Linked DNA regions of Homo sapiens: region 1 is linked to region 2. A link means that fine-mapping ties the variant in region 2 to the expression of a gene that starts in the linked region. Tissue or cell type: whole blood. Region 2 holds a variant in brackets; the other region holds the start of a gene. All regions are shown on one strand. Distances are between the middles of the regions.

The links. PIP is the estimated chance that this variant, and not a neighbour inherited with it, causes the effect.
Region 1: it holds the start of SLC29A3, and the variant in region 2 is fine-mapped to the expression of SLC29A3 in whole blood (INTERVAL, PIP 0.91).

The regions. Positions count from the first base shown.
Region 1 is chr10:71,317,725-71,320,481 of GRCh38, reverse strand. SLC29A3 (solute carrier family 29 member 3) reads right to left here and starts at 1,223. Exons shown (of 6, transcript NM_018344.6): 1 at 1,172-1,223. The coding sequence starts at 1,172. LOC124902445 (a long non-coding RNA gene) reads left to right here and starts at 819. Exons shown (of 2, transcript XR_007062183.1): 1 at 819-920; 2 at 1,578-2,513. RefSeq lists a silencer at 977-1,426.
Region 2 is chr10:71,368,956-71,371,712 of GRCh38, reverse strand. It overlaps a transcript of SLC29A3 not described here. Among named protein-coding and RNA genes, the nearest start is that of CDH23, 27 kb to the left of the region's middle. The variant G/A (reference allele first, on the strand shown) is at 1,210.

The DNA.
Region 1 (2,757 bases), 51 kb after region 2:
AGAGCCCTCATCAGAAACCAAATCAACCAGCACCTTGATCTTGCCCTTCCCAGCCTCCAGATCCATGAGAAACAAATTTTGTTTAAGCCACCCAGTCTATGCTATTTTGTCTGGCACAAAATGGTACAAATGTAACAAGCTCACTTGTTACATTTTAAAAATTAGTGTTTAAAATGTAAAAAATAATCATGACCCACCCACATAGAACAAGAGAGAACCGGCAAGTGGTTCTTTCCAGAGGCTCCAGCTACCTGTGGGGGCGGCTAGAAGGTCCACCAGCCCTGTCACTCAGGACCACACCTGGCTAGGGCCCCCTTCTCAGTTCCTAGCGTCTATTTGTCAAGGCTTGACTGAGCTTCTGAAGAAGGAGCCAGGAATTTTCTCTAACCAGGGTCACAGGCCAGGGCACTGGAGTGAGCAAAGTCTTATTAGTCTTTATAAAAGCTAGCTGCTGGCTTCTGGATTAAAAAATAAAGAGAAAGGCAGGCAAGGAAGTGCCCAACCTTCCCCAAAACAAGCTGGCTGTGGCCTGGAACGTGCTCCTGGGTCACCTGCGGGAGCCCGGCCATGCACAGACAGACAGCCCCACACAAGGAGGCAGGCACTGCTGGGGCCGCGGCAAAACCTCATCTGGGCTGGGAAGCCTGGGTGCTGGTTCCAAGGAGGTTCCTGACTCTGGCTAGGTGGCTCGCCCCTCTGTGCCTCGATCTCCTGGGCTGTGAACCGGGGTGGGGAGCTGGTAGGGCTAACCTGTGGGAAGGCACTGGGAAGCGCAGGGCACCGCCTACTGGCCGCGGCAGAACCGGCTTTGCGGTGTAAACAGCCCCAGCCTCAGGCCCCGCAGCTGGGACCGAGAGAATCAGCCACCGTCTGGATACTTCGGGCCGACGGGTCCATACCAGGCCCCCACCATACAGGCGGTGAGGTCCAGTCTCAGGGAGGAGGAGGGGAGAGGATTTGGGGAAGAGAAGATAGAGACCCAGAAAGAGGGGTGGCAGAGAGCAAGGAGAGAGAGGAGGGACGGTGGGGAAGGGACCACGGATGGGGTAGGGTCCTGCGGCTCCCCTGGCAGCCCGCAGCCGCCCCCAGGGCCCGGGAGGGAGGTCGCTGAGCGCGAGTCTGGGGGCGGCCGGGACCGTAGCCGGAAGAGCCCGAGCCGGCCCGCACTTACTGTCGCCGCTGCGCCACGCCGCCGCTGCCTCCGGCGCACGGCCAGGACCACTGGGCTTGGCAGGCGGCAGGCGGGCTCCTCCCCCGGCCCCGCCCCGCCCCTCGCGGCAGCACGCCGCCGCTTCCCCGTTTGCAAACACGCTTTTTTCCTTTGTCTTCTGCCGGCGCGCCGGGGCTCCCCCTTCTGGCGCTGAGCTGGGGCCTGCGTGCGCCCATTTTATAGGAGAAAAAGTGAGTCACCCAGTCTTAAACGCACTGCCCATGCTTGCGATGGGTGCGCTGCGCATCAGGCCTTTTGGTTGCTGCTCCTTCTTTACCTTGGAGCCAGACCCCACTGTCTCAGACCTCCCCTTTAGCTACTATAACCTGCACCCCAGGACTCAAAGGAGCCCTCATCTTGTCCCCAGGCCGCTGCAGAGACCCCTCTCCAAAGGCCGCTTCTACCCTTACCGGCTGCCGCTGCTCTGGAGGTGAAGCGGGACCCACACCCGGACTGAACTGGGCCTCCCAGGCCAGGCAGCTATTTTCAGTAGACCCAGAACATGGCAGTCAGCAATTCCAGCCCTCACACTTGACCTCAGCCATAGCGTGTAACACACAGCTGCCGCGTGTTCTTTAAGAAAGCAGGGGCCGGGCGCGGTGGCTCACGCCTGTAATCCCAGCACTTTGGGAGGCCGAAGCAGGCGGATCACCTGAGGTCGGGAGTTTGAGACCAGCCTGGCCAACATGGCGAAACCTCGTCTCTACTGAAAATACAAAAGTAGCCGGGCATGGTGGTGCGTGCCAGTGATCCCAGCTATGTGGGAGGCTGAGGCAGGAGAATCGCTTGAACCCGGGAGGCGGAGATTTCAGTGAACCGAGATGGTGCCACTGCACTCCAGCCTGGAGCCTGGGCGACAGAGCAAGACTCCATCTCAAAAAAAAAAAAAAAAAAAAAAAGGCGGAAACCTTCCTGACTCCCGGTCCTGGCCCAGTTGGCCTATTCAGAGCGGGGATCTGGATGCTTCACAGGGCCTGAAGATCTGTGACCATGGATAGTAAATTCTTGCAGTTGCCATCCCAGGGCTCAGGGGTGCCACAGAACCCATTGAGGCTGTCAGTGTGTGGACAGGTTCTCAGAACATCCCCACTCCCTGCCCCAGCCTCTCATTTTATAACCACCATTCCCCAAACACTGGCCTGATCATAAAAGTCTCGAGTACACATCCAGATTCTGGGGACCTCTCCCCAGGAGGGTTGCTGCCACTCCCCAATCCCTGAGGGTGGTGCTGTATCTGCTTTGTTTGCTCTTCCCTCATCGTGGGCACATAATTTGTGTTCAATAAATACCTGGATTAATACAACCCATCACTCAGGGGGTGCAGAATGGGGATCCAGAATGGATCTATTTAACAAGCTCCACCAGCAGGCGAGTTTGGAGACTAGCACCCTAAATTGTCAGAAAGCCCCCCGGCCCAGGAGAGGAAGGGGCTTAGCTCCAGGCTTACAAGCTGAGGGATAATGGTAAAATTACTAAACCTCTCTGAAACCCAGGGTCGGCTTAGGACTGTCGGGAGAATTAAGTCAGGTGATCCATGCCAGGCACTC
Region 2 (2,757 bases):
GAGACACAGAGAGGTTAAGAAACCTGTCCAAGATCACTGACTAATAAGACATAGAGTCGGGGTTCAAAATCAGGCAGTCTGGCTTCTAAGTCCCTGCTCTTAAGCACTGTGCTCTGTCCATTGCTCTGTCCAGGAACACCATTAAACAGGACGGGTCACTGTAGCTTGGCACCCAGGGGCTCGGAAACCTTGGAATGCAGACCTCTTTGACTATCTGATGTAAGCTATAGCCCCTCTCCCAAAGCACAGAAACTTCTGCATATGATCTCAGGGGTTCCATGAATCCCTCTTTCCACCCAGAGGCCCCAGATTAAGACCCACATAAGACTCTTAGAAGGAAGTAGCAAGGACATCAGAAGTCTAGAGCCATGAGAACATTCTGCCCTGGTTAAACTCCAAGGAGTGGGGCGGGCTAGTGCAGTAGTGATGGAGGCCGTTGGGTGAAAGTGCTGGGAAGAGGACCTCACATCCTTCACCCTGGAGTGAGTGCATAGGAAGTGGGCTAGGAACGTGGGGGCTTTTTCCAGAATCGGAACAGCAATCAGTAAGACCTAGTGCTTGATGGATCAGTATTCACTACACTTTACAATAATCTATCATACATTTCAAAATAGCTAGAAGAGAATCATTCGGGCCAAGCGCGATGACTCACACCTGTAATCCCAGCACTTTGGGAGGCTGAGGTGAGTAGATCGTTTGAGCTCAGGAGTTCGAGACCAGCCTGGGCAACATAAAGAGACCCTGTCTCTATTAAAAATTAAAAAATAAATAATAAAATAATTTAGATGTTTCTAGTATAAAGAAAAGACAAATATTTAAGGTGATGGCTATCCCAATTGCCCTGATTTGATCTTTACAAATGATATCAGTGTATTAAATTATCATATGTACCCTGAAAATATATACCTCTATTATGTATCAATAAAAAATTACATTAAAAACTGCAAAACAATGGCACTTTTCTCACCAATATTTTGTTTTGGAAAATATAGTTATATTTCATTTTTTTAAAAAGCTGGGCACAGTGTCACATGCCTGTAGTCCCAGCTACTTGGGAGGCTGAGGTGGGAGGATCACTTGAGCCTAGGAGTTGGAGGTTGCAGTGAGCTATGATTGCACTTCCGAACAGCCACTGCACTCCAACCTCAGCAACATAGCAAGACTCCATCTCTTAAAATATATATAATAAATAAATAAACAAATAAGAAG[G/A]ACAGCACTGAGGACGTTCAATCTCCTTGGGCCTCCGGAACTTAAATCTGTTAGAAACTGCTGGTCAGCACAGGCCTGGTGCCAGCTGGTTTACAGTAGCCCAAGTATGGTCTTGCTGAGGGGCAGAGGTTGGACTTGGTGGCCTCAGGGCCCCACCAGCTCTAGGCATATGTTTTAAGTTGGGAACAGAAGGCATGGTTATCCTAGAACTTCATACTTTACTCTTCTCTGTGTCTGCGAAGGTGGACCCACCCACGGTTCCTTGGCACGTTGGAGAGGACAGGCTTGAGGCATGTGGCACCTGAGATCCAGATGGTGAAGCTCTCTGCCTGTATCACATGCTCTGTAAATCTTGCTCTTGCCTTCATGAACCTTATGTTTCAAGTGCCTATAACATCTGCAGCCTTGGGTATTGATGACCAGTGACCCATCAGTGCCACCATAGAAGCACTGAGGGCAGGCTGGGTGGCCCCTGTCCCTCACACCGGACAAGTTCATCCTGACTCTGCTTCTCCCCCTCCTTACCCTGTCTACCCAGCATGTGCTCTGGGCGTCCTCAGATCCACAAACCATGTAAACTGGAAGTGCCCTTCTCAATCTTTTAAGGCAGCAGGGTGAAGAGGAAAGACAGGCTTTGGAGCCTCCTAGCTCTGGTCTGAATTCTAACATGGTCTCTTACTGACTTAATCTTTCTGAGTCTCAGTTTCCTCATCTGTAAAATGGGGATGACCCACCCCACCTGGCAGGGATACTGTACATAGGCAGAGCCTGACCATAGTAGCTGCTCAATGGTCAGTGCCTCCCTTTACTTTGATGTAGACCACACTCATCCTGCTGCAGAAGCAGGGCCTGCTCCCAAGCTCATGGCCAGCAGTGGATTGCAGAGCCCAGGTTGGATTGTTGCTCTACTCTGATCTCCTTAGCAAACAGTCATTTGTTTACGCTACACCTGTAGTGTTCTCATTTTTTGCAATATGAATAGGCTGAGGATTTTCCAAATCTTTAAGTTCTGCTTCCTTTTTACTTCACCATTCCATATTTAAGTCATTTCTCTTTTCTCACATGTTATTAGGAGAAGCCAAGCCACACTTTCAATATATTGCATAGAAATGTCCTCAGCTAAACATCTTGTTTCATCACTCTCAAGTTCTACCTGCCACAAAACACTAGAACACAAACACAGTTCAGCCAAGCTCCTTGACATTTGTCTTAGTCTGTTCACACTACTATAACAAAAATATCATAGCCTGGGTGGCTTCTATACAATAGAAATTTATTCCTCACAGTTCTAGAGGCTGGAAGATCCAAGATCAAGGTTGCAGCAGATTTGGTGTGTGCTGAGGGTCTGCTTCCTGGTTGACAGAGGGCCATCTTCTCACTGTGTTCTCACACGGCACAGGGGTGAGGGAGCTCTGTTGACTCTTTTATAAGGTTACTAATCACATTCATGAGGGTTCTACTCTCATGATCTAATCACCTCCCAAACATCCAACCTCCTAATACCATCAAGTTGGGGGTTAGGATTGGAACATGTGAATTTGGGGAGGA